Homo sapiens: one gene and its partner. The protein of the gene in region 1 interacts with the protein of each later gene in a biochemical or structural test. Each region holds a gene or a part of one and is shown on either strand. Other genes may lie near its edges.

Region 1 (7,022 bases):
GACTAAAAAGCAAAGGGTAACCAAATGGCAAGCAAGTGAACCGGCCCACTCTGTGAATGGGGAGGGGGGTGTGCTTGCCTCTGCTCCAGATCCACCTGTGCTCCGGGAAACAGCACAAAACACCCAGACGGGTAACCAGCAAGAACCATCGCCAAACCTTTCCAGAGAGAAAACCAGAGGTAATTTGTACTCTTTTAAACCAGGGGCTGGAAAACTTCCTGGAAAGGGCCAGATCGTAAATATTTTGGCTTTGTAGGCCACACAGACTCTGTCACAACTACTCAACTCTGCTGTCATAGTGAGAAAGCAGGCGTGGACAATATGTAAATGAACAGGCATGGCCATATGCCAGTAAAACTTTATTTACAAAAACAGGCAGCCAGCCACATGACCGTAGTTTGCTAACTTTTGGTTTGTTTTTATTTTTTAATTTTTAAGCTTAAAAAAAAATTTAGAGCTGGAGGTCTCACTATGTTGCCCAGGCTGGTCTTGAACTCCTGGACTCAAGCAATCCTCGTGCCTCAGCCTCTCAGAGTGCTGGGATTACAGGCGTAAGCCACTGCGCCCGGCTGACTCCTGGTTTAAACAACAGTCAAGAAAAACATAACCCGTGTGAATTTTTCACATGATTGTGTTTGGAGTCCTCTGCTCTTTCAGAATTTCCTATGAAATTCTGTTATATGATTGACATGAGTTACACAAACAACACAATAATGCTGCTTCTCTTGTTTTCTTGAATTTATTCCAAAGTGGGTAAGTTGGACTGGGCCAGCCAATTTGGATAGGCTGCTGAGAGGGCCGCATGAGGACTCTGTGTGGGCTCAAGTCCCAGGAGAATCTTCAGGTTCTTTCTTTCTCTCTCTGAAGACCTTTTAATCTTTTCCTTTGTTATTGTTATTGATTTATTTACTTACTTAGTTTTTAGAGACAGGATCTTGGTCTCTCACCCAGGCTGGAGTGCAGTGGTGCTATCATAGCTTACTGCAGCCTTGACCTCCCAGGTTCAAGCAGTCCTCCCTGCCTCAGCCTCCCGAGTAGCTGGGACCACAGGCACCCACCACCGTGCCTGGATAATTTTTTAACTGTTTAAAGCAGTTTTCTTGCCCTGCTGCCCTTGGTATACTGAGCTATATGCTTACTACACATTCTTCATGCAAAACTGAAAACTACCCTTGCATATATAATACACCATGGGCTCTCTGAGCTCCTGAGTTCTGTTTCTAAATTTCCTTTGCCCTCACTTCCTGATCTTAATAACCTCTCAGTAGAGTGGTGGTAGAGTCTCAGGTCGCATAGACTACTGGAAGGCATCAGCAGTGTTGCCTCACCAACTTTACTGGTCTCTCGTGCTCTTTGCCAGTCGGATGAAATCTATGCATGGTTCCCCCAAAACACGTATCCATGCGCGTATCTGCAAAACTGGCACACAACTTCATGGGGTTCATGGATCCCCACTGAAGATCATCCGTGGATCCCAAGTTAAAGAAGAACTGATCTAGGACATAAACCTTTGTCATTAATATTTCTTTAATAATAGCTTTATTGGGGTATAATTGATATTCCATAAAATTCACCATTTAAAAGGGTATGGTTCAGTGGTTTTTAGTATATTCACAGACTTGTCCAACCACCACCACTACCTAACGTTAGAACAGTTTTATCATCCTAAAAATAAACCCCATGCTCATTAGCAGTCACATCCCATTCCCCTCCTGTTATTGATATTTATGTCTATATTGCCATAAACAAAGAGGTTACCAACAAGCAACCAGTCCTCTTCACATTTGTGAGTCAAACCTAAACTAGTTGATAAAGGACTCTTGAAACTTGCGTCTAACCTGTATCTGGTAGAAAAGTCTTTTATTTCTCCAGCTACAACAGATGGTTGTGAATATTTTCCTCCTTGCCAGAGAATGTGCCCAACAGCGACTCCCAGCCTCCTCCTTCCTGTTTGACAACAGCAGTGCCAAGTCCCTCCAAACCCCGCACAGCACAATTGGTCCTACAGCGAATGCAGCAGTTCAAGAGAGCAGACCCCGAGCGTTTGAGACACGCTTCAGAAGAGTGCTCCCTCGAGGCTGCGCGGGAAGAAAATGTCCCAAAGGATCCTCAAGAGGAGATGATGGCGGGGAATGGTATGATGAGTGTGTTTCTGTCTTCCACACAGAGATAAGTTAATACAACTCTGAGGAAGGGAGGCGGGAAGGAATCAGCATTTGTTGAGTTTCTTCTGTGGATAGGCTCTCTGCTTGATGTTTTACCTTTGCCACTTCACTGGATCCAGCCAGAGAATGAAGAGTCTCTGGGATCATTTCCCACCTAGCTTCCTTGATAAGGTACCGTTTTGTTTTTTTTTCTGAGACAGAGCCTTGCTCTGTCACCCAGGCTGGAGTGCAGTGACATGATCTCAGCTCACTGCAACCTCCGCCTCCCAGGTTCAAGCAATTATCTTGCCCCAGCCAGTGGGATTACAGACGTGTGCCACCACACCTGGCCAATTTTTGTATTTTTAGTAGAGACAGGGTTTCGCCAAGTTGGCCAGGCTGGTCTCGAACTCCTGACCTCAAGTGATCTGCCTACCTCAGCTCCCCAAAGTGCTGGGATTACAGGCGTGAACCATTGCACCTGGCCCTCTTCCTTTTTTTTTTTTTTTTTTTTTTTTGAGATGGAGTCTCGCTCCGTCACCCAGGCTGGAGTGCAGTGGCACGATATTAGCTCACTGCAAGCTCCACCTCCCAGGTTCACGCCATTCTCCTGCCTCAGCCTCCCGAGTAGCTGGGACTACAGGCTCCCACCACCACGCCTGGCTAATTTTTTGTATTTTTAGTAGAGACAAGGTTTCACCTTGTTAGCCAGGATGGTCTCGATCTCCTGACCTCGTGATCCACCCGCCTTGGCCTCCCAAAGTGCTGGGATTACAGGCGTGAGCCACTGTGCCTGGCCTCCTTTTTTTAAAAATTATGACTTTTTATTATGAAAGCTTTCCCTTTCAGTTTTTTCCTTTTAAAAAGATAACCCTCAGTATTCACAAAGAACTCTTCCTTTCAGAAAAGGTTTTTTTGTTGTTGTTGTTTTAATTACAATGAAGCCAGGCATGATGGCTCATGCCTATAATCCCAAAACTTTGGGAGGCCAAGGCAGGAGGACTACTTGAGGTCACAAGTTCGAGACCAGCCTGGACAACATAGTGAGACCCCCATCTCTACAAAAAAATTTTAGGGGCCAGGCGTGGTGGCTCACGCCTGTAATGCCAGCACTTTGGGAGGCCGAGGTGCGCAGATCACAAGGTCAGGAGATTGAGACCATCCTGGCTAACACAGTGAAACCCCATCTCTATGAAAAATACAAAAAATTAGCAAGGTATGGTGGTGGGTGCCTGTAGTCCCAGCTACTCGGGAGGCTGAGGCAGGAGAATGGCGTGAACCTGGGAGACAGAGCTTGCAGTGAGCCGAGATTGCACCACTGCACTCCAGCCTGGGCAACAGAGCAAGACTCTGACTCAAAAAAAAATTTTTTTTTAATTAGCTGGGCATGATGGTGCACAACTGTAGTCCCAGCTACTCGGGAGGCTGAGGTGGGAGGATTGCTTGAGCCCAGGACGTTGAGCTGCAGTGAGCTGTGATTGCATCATTGCACTCCAGGGCAACAGAGTGAGACCCTGTCTCAAAAAAAAAAAAAAAAAAATTACAATGAATCCCCTAATCCCCTATACCTCAATCTAGATTTAACAAATGTTAACATTTGGCCATTTGTTTATGTCTTTATAAATATACATTTTTTTTTTTTTTTGAGATGGAGTCTTGGTCTGTCTCCCAGGTTGGGGTGCAGTGGCGCAATCTCGGCTCACTGCAAACTCCACCTCCTGGGTTCAAGCCATTCTCCTGCCTCAGCTTCCAGGAAGCTGGGACTACAGGCATGCACCACCACGTCCAGCTAATTTTTGTATTTTTAGTAGAGTTGGGGTTTCACCATGCCGGCCAGGCTGTTCTGGAACTCCTGACCTTGTGATCTGTCCACCTCAGTCTCCCAAAGTGCTGGGATTACAGACGTGAGCCACCGTGCCTAGCCAAGCGTACATATTTTTCTTCCATATTATCTGAAGGTAAATTATAGACATTAGGATCCTTTACCCCTAGATTCTGCTGCATAACCACAATACCATTAGCACGCTTAATTCCATAATAGTGCCTGGCGTCCAGTTCAAACTCAAATTTCCCTGGTTGTCTCAAGGTTATTTTTTGTAGCTGGTTTCTTTTTTTTCTGAACAAGGATTCAGTAAGTTCACACACTGCATATTGCTGTAGCTCAGCAGTATCCTAAGGTCTAGATTCTAGAATAGTCCCCCATTTCCTTTTGTTTTCCATGACACTGACTTTTTTTTTTTTTTTTTTTGACAGAGGCTTGGCTAGAGTGCAGTGGCACAATCTCGGTTCACTGCAACCTCTGCCTCCCAGGTTCAAGCTATTCTCGTGCCTCGGCCTCCTGAGTAGCTGGGATTACAAGCACCCACCACCACACCCGGCTAATTTTTTTGTATTTTTACTAGAAATGGGGTTTCACCATGTTGCCCAGGCTGGTCTTGAACTCCTGAGCTCAGGGGATCTGCCCTCCTCAGCCTCCCAAAGTGCTAGGATTACAGGTGTGAACCACCACACCCAGCCCTATGACACTGAGTTTTTGAAGAGGCTAGGCTAATTGTATTATAAGATTTCCCACTTTCTGGATTTATTTCTTTATGGGATCGTTAACTCCTTCCTCTAACCATTGGGTTGCCCCACTCTGAGTAGATTAGAGGCTCATTGGCTGCAGGTGAGACAGGGTGGCGACAGTGCCCCATAGCTGCTGTGTACTTGGTGTGGCACCGGCCCAATAAGCGTAATAATGCCAGGTGCTCCTGTTCTCCATCCCCAAAACAATATGGATTCTCATCTCTGATGAAAATATACAAAAGGAAAAGAAATAGGAAGAAACCATTATCGGCAGACCTACAGCTAATAAGTATGCAGGATCTTGGCATTGCATTGCAGATTTCACTGCAGTAGCACGGAGGAGTCTCAGGCCACCCCAGGGTCCACAGCAGGCAGTGATTTGATGTCCTGCCGAGGCATCAGTCCTGGACGCACATGTGAGTTGCAGAGGAGGCACCCAGCTGGTGTGAGCTCCGCCCCTGCCCAGCATTTGACTCAGTTCTCTCTGTATCTTCACATCACACCCAGCAAGTGCTCAGAAAGAGATAAACCATTTGTTTGTTAAGAAACCAAACCAGGCTGGACGCGGTGGCTCACGCCTGTAATCCCAGCACTTTGGGGAGGCCAAGGCGGGCAGATCACCTGAGGTCAGGAATTCAGGACCACCCTGGCCAACATGGTGAAGCCCTGTCTCTACTAAAAATTAGCCAGGTGTGGTGGGCACCTGTAATCCCAGCTACTCAGGAGGCTGAGGCAGGAGAATCGCTTGGACCCGGGAGGCAGAGGTTGCAGTGAGCTGAGATCGCGTCGTTGCACTCCAGCCTGGCGACAGAGTGTGAGACTCCATCTCAAAAACAAACAAACAAACAAAACAGGGCACCAAAATGAAGGTGTGCTGTTTTGCTGGCCTCAGTGGCAGGCACTGGTAGGCCACAGCCATGAAGAACTTGGGGATTTATGAGGCGTTCAGGGCATATCCCTTGTGAGTGACAGGGGTCTGCTCCAGCAATATCAGATGGGCCACCCTGGGAGCCATCTCAAGACCAGAATCAGTCCATTCTTGAGTCTGATGCTAAGTAAGAGATGCTGCCTTTTAAACGCCAAAGGCATTTCACTCTGCCCTGGTTTTATCATGGGCAGTAAAAGGTCAGCAGGAAAGGGTGAGTTTTGAAGAGAACATCTAGCTTTGTTGGAATATGAGCCTTGTGAACTTGCAATGCCCGAGGTAGCCAACTTCAGCAGAAGTGGGAAAGTTTAGGTCCTTGCTACTCAGAGTGGTCCTGTGCTGCCAGCATCGCCAAGCCTGGAGGCTGCTAGAAATGCGGAGAGTCTCAGGCTGCACCTGGACCCCTTGAATTTGAATCTGAGTGTCGACAAGCTTCCCAGGTAATGCATATCCATGTTAAAGTTGGAGACGGCTGTTCCCGGAGTGCTGATTAGTGCCCAGTCTCACTGGACAGTGTCCAAGTCACCAGCCTGCAGAGTGGAGCTGGGTTCTGGTTTCTTTGCGTTCCACCTGCTCCCCATGGTCTGCAGGAGCTGACAGAGCAGAGGTCTGAGGGTGAGCTTGTCTTTGGAGTTTATTCTCACGGATCTTTGGTGCTTCTCCACAGTGTATGGGCTTGGGCCCCCTGCCCCAGAGAGCGACGCTGCGGTGGCCTTGACCCTGCAGCAGGAGTTTGCACGGGTAGGAGCATCGGCACATGATGATAGCCTGGAGGAAAAGGGTTTGTTCTTCTGCCAGATTTGTCAAAAGAACCTCTCAGCCATGAACGTGACCCGAAGGGAACAGCATGTGAACAGGTGGGGGCAGCTTGGGCCGTCGCCTCTCCCGTGTATGTGACCAGAATCCCCAAGCACCCCAGGGCTGGAGTGCGGATCTCCACACCTTACCATGACAACAGCACCTCAGCTTTGTTGTCAACCTACCCCTTTTTAAAAATAACTTCGTTGAGATACAATTCACAGAACATATAGTTCACCCATTTAAACTGAACAAATCACTACTTTTGGGATATTCACACAGTTGGGCAACTGTCACCACAATCACTTCTGGATTATTTTCATCACCCCCAAAAGAATCCCCACACCCATTGGCAGCCACTCCCTATTGCCCCTCTCTCCCCTGACAACCACTAATCAACATTCTGTCTGGATGGATTTGCCGATTCTGAAATTGCACAGTTGTCCTTTTGTGTCTGCCTTCTTTGACTTAATATGTTGTTTTTGAGGTTCATCCATGTTGTAGCATGGAGCAGGCTTCATTCCTTTTTATGGCTGAGCAGTATCTCATTGTATGGCTAGACTGTGTTTTTCCCATTCTTAGATGAGGAA
Region 2 (7,047 bases), on another chromosome or scaffold:
GTACCCGTAGGGCTCTCCAGGATGCCATTCACCTTCTGAACGGAGTTCGGAGCAAGGGTTACGGGGAAGCCAGGAAGAGGCGAGGCCACACAAGCTGCCCTGAGACAAGCTTCGGCAGCCAGCGGGCAGCTCTTTGCAGATGCAGAGGCCACTGCCAGGTGGCGAGAGCCCTGTGGGACCGCGGAGAAGTCCACAGGCAAGTCCCACTCTTGCCCTAAAGGGCGTGAAGCAACTCAGCCGCCATTAGCAAACGATTTGCAGAACGTTACCCAAAACACGACACTATTTTTCAGCTTAAATAGTAAGATGACTAATTAGGTGTCAAGTCTCAAAATAGGAAACTGTTCTGCGTTTCTGGATCCAAACATTTATGCTGTCCTATCTGACGTCCTACATACAAGCTCTCAGACGGGAACCTGAGCAGGAAACTCGGGGAGGGGAAGGGTGTGAGCCGGGTACAAGAGGGCACCTCAAGGAACCCAGGAGAAGGCAACCTGCACCACTGCCACCTCCCTGCACCCCCGAGGTTCAAAGACCTTCCAAGTGAGGCTGGCCACCGGCTGCCCCTCTAATGGAAATGCTTCCTCCTGACCCGTGAATATCAGCTGCTCCTCAGAGAGGCCCCCAAGGCACTCCTAAGTCTGTCACCCTCAAGGACTGTAGGGAAAAGAGAGATCAGACTGTTACTGTGTCTATGTAGAAAGGGAAGACATAACACACTCCATTTTGACCTGTACCCTGAACAATTGCTTTGCCCTAAGATGCTGTTAATCTGTAACTTTGCCCCAGCCTTGAGCTCACAGAAACATGTGTTGTATGGAATCAAGGTTTAAGGGATCTAGAGCTGTGCAGAACGTGCCTTGTTAACAATATGTTTACAGGCAGTATGCTTGGTAAAAGTCATCGCCATTCTCCAGTCTCGATAAACCAGGGGCACGATGCACTGCGGAAAGCCGCAGGGACCTCTGCCCTGGAAAGCCGGGTATTGCCCAAGGTTTCTCTCCATGTGATAGTCTGAAATATGGCCTCGTGGGATGGGAAAGACCTGACAGTCCCCCAGCCCAACACCCGTGAAGGGTCTGTGCTGAGGATTAGTAAAAGAGGAAAGCCTCTTGCAGTCGAGATAGAGGAAGGCCACTGTCTCCTGCCTGCCCCTGGGAACTGAATGTTTCGGTATAAAACCCGATTGTACATTTGTTCAATTCTGAGATAGGAGAAAAGCCGCCCTGTGGCAGGAGGCGAGACATATTGGCAGCAATGCTGCTCTGTTACTCTTTACTCCACCGAGATGTTTGGGTGGAGAAAAGCATAAAACTAGCCTACGTGCACATCCAGGCATAGTACCTTCCCTTGAACTTATTTGTGACCCAGATTCCTTTGCTCACGTTTTCTTGCTGACCTTCTCCCCACTATCACCTTGCTGTCCTGCCGCATTCCTCTTGCTGAGATAGTGAAAATAGTAATTAATGAATACTGAGGAAACTCAGAGACTGGTGCCGGTGCAGGTCCTCTGTATGCTGAGCGCCGGTCCCCTGGGCCCACTTTTCTCTCTATACTTTGTCTCTGTGTCTTATTCATTTTCTCAGTCTCTCGTCCCGCCTGATGAGAAATACCCACAGGTGTGGAGGGGCCGGCCCCCTTCAAAGGACGATCGTTTTTACTTGTCAATCCTCTCTCTGACCCCACCTGGAACACCAGCCCTTTTTATGACAGACGCTGCCTCTGGCCCGGAGGGGCCTGGCTGGAATGGGCCGGGAGAGGGAAGCACACCCCGTCCTGGCTGAAGCTCCACCCACCCGCAGTCCTTTCCTCGGGGCCTGTGCTCTACCTGCTGCAGACATTCCAGGACCTTGGTCATGTACTCCTGTTGGCATTTGTAGGGCTGGAAAGGGAAGTCTACGGTCACACCATTCAGGACTATCTTGGGCATATCAGCCTGTTCTCAGAAGGGCACAGAGCGTGGCTGAGGGGCAGGCTATTCGGGTCTGTGCGAAAAAACCACTCCGAACATCTTAGGGTCTCGGGCACTCCTGGTAAGCGATGCGAGCATGTGCACTGGGACACAACGCTGTTCTCTTCGAGAATCCCTATGGCACAGACCTGGGAAAGACAGTAAGACTCTGTTTGTAGACAGCCTTTGTGGGTACCGGGCTACTTTCCCAGGCGTTTCCATCAGTCCCTCCTGCGGAGAGGGTTGGAGAGCAACCCTGGTATATCCCATCTCGAGGAGCTGGCGGGGCGAAGATGCGAAGTGGCTGGGCCTTGCCTTATCCTCCCGCCCCACAACTCCGTCCTTCTCTGGAAAAGACGCCCACAGTGCTGCAAGTTCCGCCTGCAGTAATTCCGCGACTTCCACAAGAGCGTGAGGGCTGAAGAGGCAAGCGGCACCCCTCCCGGCCTCACCAGGCGCAACGTCAGAGCGGAGGGTCTGAACCTCCGGCCCTGCCTCTCCAGCCCTCTGCCCTCCTGGCTGGCTGGAGTCCATTCCCCATCCGCCCGGGTGGGCAACCAGATGCAGCCAAAGTAGCGAAAGAGCATGCCGGGATGCCAACCCGTGCAGCCCTCAGCAAATCACTCAACTTCTCTAAGCCTCAATCCCGCCCGGGAACTGGGACTAACAGAACAGACGCGGACACACTGAATGTCGGCCCTTCCCTCCAGCCCCGGTCAAGGGCTCAGCCAACGCCGCGGCGCCAGCGCCACGAGCGCAGGAAACTACAGGTCCCAAAATGCAGCGCGGCCAATCCGCCGACCCGCGGCCCCGAGGGCGGCTTGGGGCCTGCCGGGAGCTGTAGTTTCGAAAAACCGCAACGCGCCTACGAGCCGCTCGGGTAAAAGAACCACTTGTAGGGTCACTGCGACTCACTGCTCACTTGTCTCCGCGGCGAACCTTCCAGAACCGGGGTCCCTCAGGAACTCAACCGACTCCAGTCGAGGGCCGCCACCCGTCCCCAGCTGTCAGCCAGCTCAGAGTTTTCGCGGGCAGAGGCGCGCAGTCGGCGCTGAGCCCACTGCACTTCCGCCCCCCACTTCCGGTCCGTTGCTTTGTGCTCCCGGCGGAAACTGTTCCCCCGCGGAGGGGGTCCGCCTGCTCTTCGGCTCCTCCAGGCCTACACGGCGTTTTGCGCGTTCTGTGTCCGGCTCCGCTGGCCAGTGAACCTCACTTCCATCGCCCACAGGCAGAAATCTGGGGTCCCGCCCGTCTCCTCCCTTGATGTCATTCCCCCACCAGGGTCTGCGTTCCACTACCGCCTCTCTAGGCCGAGCCACCACCATTGCCCGGAGAGCTGCACGGGCCTCCTCCCCAGAGGCATCTTTTTACTGCTCGAGTGTGAGCCGACCGCTTTCCTGAAAATTTGAAAACGGCTGCGCCTTGCCCAGGACCCGGCTCCTGAGAGCCCTGACCGCCCCCTCTCCTTCCTCTCCTGCGTTCCAGCTTCTGCTCGGCTCACTGTCCCGCAGTGGTCCCGGCGGGCCTCCCTGAGTCCCCAGCACCCGGCACTGGCTGGCAGCAGGGCTGACTCCAAGAGCGAGGCCCGCACCGTTCTGTGGGGTCAGCCCAGCGTCACGGATGTTTGTCTCAGGCGGCCCCAGCTCCCATGCCCCAGAAGGCCCCAGAAGGCCCCAGGAGGGAGTTGGCGCTGCGTGACCGCGCACGGCCGGCAGGCAGCACTTCTTCGTGGCTTCTTCATGGCTGTGTTTAATGTCCACTGACGGCACATGCGAATGCCATGCGTGCCCACGCTCCTGGGTGTGAGATAGTGCTCGGAGAAGCCCCAGCACTCACTGGCACCCAGCCCCATGTGCCTGTTGTGGTGAAGGAACTGCAGGCTGCCTATCTGAGACTCGGCAGGGAGTTGAAGATGAGGAGACCAGCCACACACACTCGTTGAATGAATGGGCACCAAGCACAAGTTTCAGTGCCCCCCATACATGCTGATATGGTTCGGCTCTGTGTCTCCACCCAAGTCTCACCTCGAATTGTAATCCCCACGTGTGGAGGGAGGGACCTGGAGGGAGGTGGTTGGATCATGCGGTCAGTTTCCTCCAGGCTGTTCTGACAGTGAGTGCTCAGGAGACCCGATGGTTTAAAAGTGGCAGTTTCCCCTTCTCTCTCTCTTTCTCCTGCCGCCATGTACGACCTGGGAACTGGGACTAACATAGACTTCACCTTCTGCCATGATTCTTTTTTCTTTGAGACAGAGTTTTGGCTTTTTGCCCAGGCTGGAGTGCAGTGGCACAATCTTGGCTCACTGCAACCTCCACCTCCTGGGTTCAAGTGATTCTCCTGCCTCAGCCTCTCAAGTAGCTGGGATTACAGGTGTGCACCACTAAGCCCGGCTAATTTTTTATATTTTTAGTAGAGATGGAGTTTGACCGTGTTGGCCAGGCAGGTCTTGAACTCCTGACCTCAGGTGATCCACCCGCCTCGGCCTCCCAAAGTGCTGGGATTACAGGCGTGAGCCACCGCGCCCAGCCAGATAAGTCCTCTCATTGTCCACACTTTCTGGGTGAGAAAGTGAGGCACAGAGCGTTGAGCAGATTGCCCAGAGCCTGCTCAGGAGCCAGGAGTTTACCTTTTGCAGCCACACATCTCATCTCCTGAGAGCAGTGGCCAGAAAAGGCTGTCCTGTGGACTGAGCTGAAGTCTGAGTCATCTGCTCCTTGCCAGCTGCTATAGGAGCGTGCTGGCCTGGGGTGGTCAGGAACTCCTGTACCCCTGCCCTCTTCCTCTAATTGCTGACGTACCCACAGCTCCAGCATACAGCAGGTGCTTGACAGATGTCTGTTGAATGACTGAGTGTCCTGCTGAGATATAGGGCTCCTTCTAGGAGCCAGAGTTAATTTCTTTCTTTCTTTTTTTTTTTTGAGACAGAGTCTTGCTCTGTCGCCCAGGCTGGAATAGAGTGGTGCGATCTCGGCTCCCTGCAACCTCCACCTCCTGGGTTCAAGCGATTCTCCTGCCTCAGCCTCCTGAGTAGCTGGGATTACAGGTGCATGCCACCACGCCCGGCTAATTTTTGTATTTTTAGTAGAGATGGGGTTTCATCATGTTGGTCAGGCTGGTCTTGAACTCCTGACCTCGTGATCTGCCCACCTCAGCCTCCCAAAGTGTTAAGATTACAGGTGTGGGCCACCACGCCCAGCCAAGCCAGAGTTAATTTCAAGAATGCAGAGGTCTGATAAAAGTCACACTTTATGAAAAACATTTTTTTTTTTGAGGTGGAGTCTTGATATTGTTGCCCAGGCTGGAGTGCAGTGGTGGGATCTCGGCTCACTGCAACCTCTGCCTCCTGGATTCAAGTGATTCTCCTGCTTCAGCCTCCAAAGTAGCTGAGATTACAGGCACCTGCCACCACACCTGGCTAATTTTTGTATTTTTAGGGTAGATGGGGTTTCACCATGTTGGCCAGGCTGGTCTCAAACTCCTGACCTCAGGTGATCTGCCCACCTCGGCCCCCCAAAGTGTTGGGATTACAGTTGTGAGCCACTGCACCCAGTCAAAACATTTTTTTAACTAGCACTAATGTGCATGTGAAAAACATCTTTGAAATGCTCGTGCACTTTCTGCATTTGATCTTGGTGAGAAGTCAAAATCTGCTCCAAGACCTGGCACTATATTGGGGCAAACAGTCAGTACAGCTATTGTGTGCCTGCCAGCATGCTGTCATTACTCCTATTGCGTGTGCCTGCCAGTGCACTGAGAGTCAGTACACCTATGGCATGTGCCTGCTAGTGTGCTGTCAGTACAGCTGTTGTGTATGCCTGCTAGCACGCTGACAGTCAGTATGGCTGACAGTCAGTACCCCATTGCGTGTGCCTGCCTAGGTGCTGACAGTCAGTACCCCTGTTGTGTGTTCCTGCTAGTGCACACTGTGCACATCTACTGTGTTCCTGGCACTATGCCACGGGCTTCCACACACCTGGTCCCTGTGCTCCAGATGAGGACACAGAGGCTCAGAGAGGGCCTGGCCAGAGTCACAATGAGTGTGAGGCATTGCGGTGCTCTGAGCCTGACTGGGTGGGTCCTACCCCACCCACATGAGAAGACTCTGGAGGTCCCAGAGAGGGCTACTTCTCTTGATCCCTAGCACCTGAGCTCCAGCACCCGGGGCTGGAGTCTGCCTGAAGGATGCTGACCATCCCCAACTGCTACTGTGGTGGCCAACAGGGAGGACACAGCTGCTGTGGTGGGCAGCTCTGTGTGCCTCTCTGCCCTTCTTCCTCCTTCGCAGAGCTGGCTTCCTAGGAATGGCCCAGGGGCCAACACCTCTGTGTGTATATTAGTTTGATATGGCTTCATAGCAAATCACCACAAAACCAACAGCTTAAAACAACTCTCATTCATTACCTCCTAATTCTTAGTAACCCAAGGCTGAAACCAAGTGGGCAGTTGGGCTCAGTTCTTGTGTGGAGGCCCTGGGGTCAAACCTGCCTCCAAGCCCATTCTCTTCTTGTTGGCAGAACTCACTTCCTTGCAGTTAAGGTCTTGTTGTCTTGCTGGCTGTTGGCTGGGAGCAGTTCTCAGATCCTTGCCACGTGGCCCCCTCATCTCAACAACAGAAAACCTTCTTTGGTTTGATCCCTCCGATTTCTTCAACCAGGCAAAGGAAACTGCTTTTAAAGGGCTCCTGTGATGAGGTCAGGGCCCGCCTGGTGATCCTCCAGTCTTAAGGGTACCTCTGGGCCACACAATGTCACATTCCTGGGCATCACCCCCACCAGACTCACAGTCCCGGGGATGATGCCGGCTTGCACGTCAGGGGTCAGGACTCTCCAGGCCACCCTAGGATGTGACTGGCCTTGGGTGCTCCCACCGCACTGCTAGAGCTGAGGCTTGCCCCTGGCTTTTGTGTTGCTGAGCCAGCCTCATGGCTCTGCAAGTCTCCTGAGGTTTTCAGGGTTTTGCTCCTGGCCCTATGACTTAGTTGCTTGTAGGGCAAAGCACTTTTCTCCCTGCCTCGGTGGCTTCATCCCTGCAATGGCAAAGACGCTCCGTTTGCCTACCAGGCTTTCCCTTTGGGAGTTATGAGGAGAGGGGGAGGC

The links. Proteins that work in one complex are often made in the same cells at the same time.
Region 2: the proteins of SLX4 (region 1) and RTEL1 form a complex in vitro, tested with the Homo sapiens proteins (one study listed by BioGRID).

What each region holds. Positions count from the first base shown.
Region 1 is NC_000016.10:3,601,587-3,608,608, reverse strand, and holds part of SLX4 (structure-specific endonuclease subunit SLX4), read left to right. Parts: coding exon 1-179; intron 180-1,910; coding exon 1,911-2,135; intron 2,136-6,301; coding exon 6,302-6,491; intron 6,492-7,022. UniProt on the Homo sapiens protein: Regulatory subunit that interacts with and increases the activity of different structure-specific endonucleases.
Region 2 is NC_000020.11:63,654,286-63,661,332, reverse strand, and holds the start of RTEL1 (regulator of telomere elongation helicase 1), read right to left. Parts: upstream 3,022-7,047; 5' UTR 2,867-3,021; intron 2,101-2,866; 5' UTR 1,931-2,100; coding exon 1,829-1,930; intron 36-1,828; coding exon 1-35. UniProt on the Homo sapiens protein: A probable ATP-dependent DNA helicase implicated in telomere-length regulation, DNA repair and the maintenance of genomic stability. Acts as an anti-recombinase to counteract toxic recombination and limit crossover during meiosis.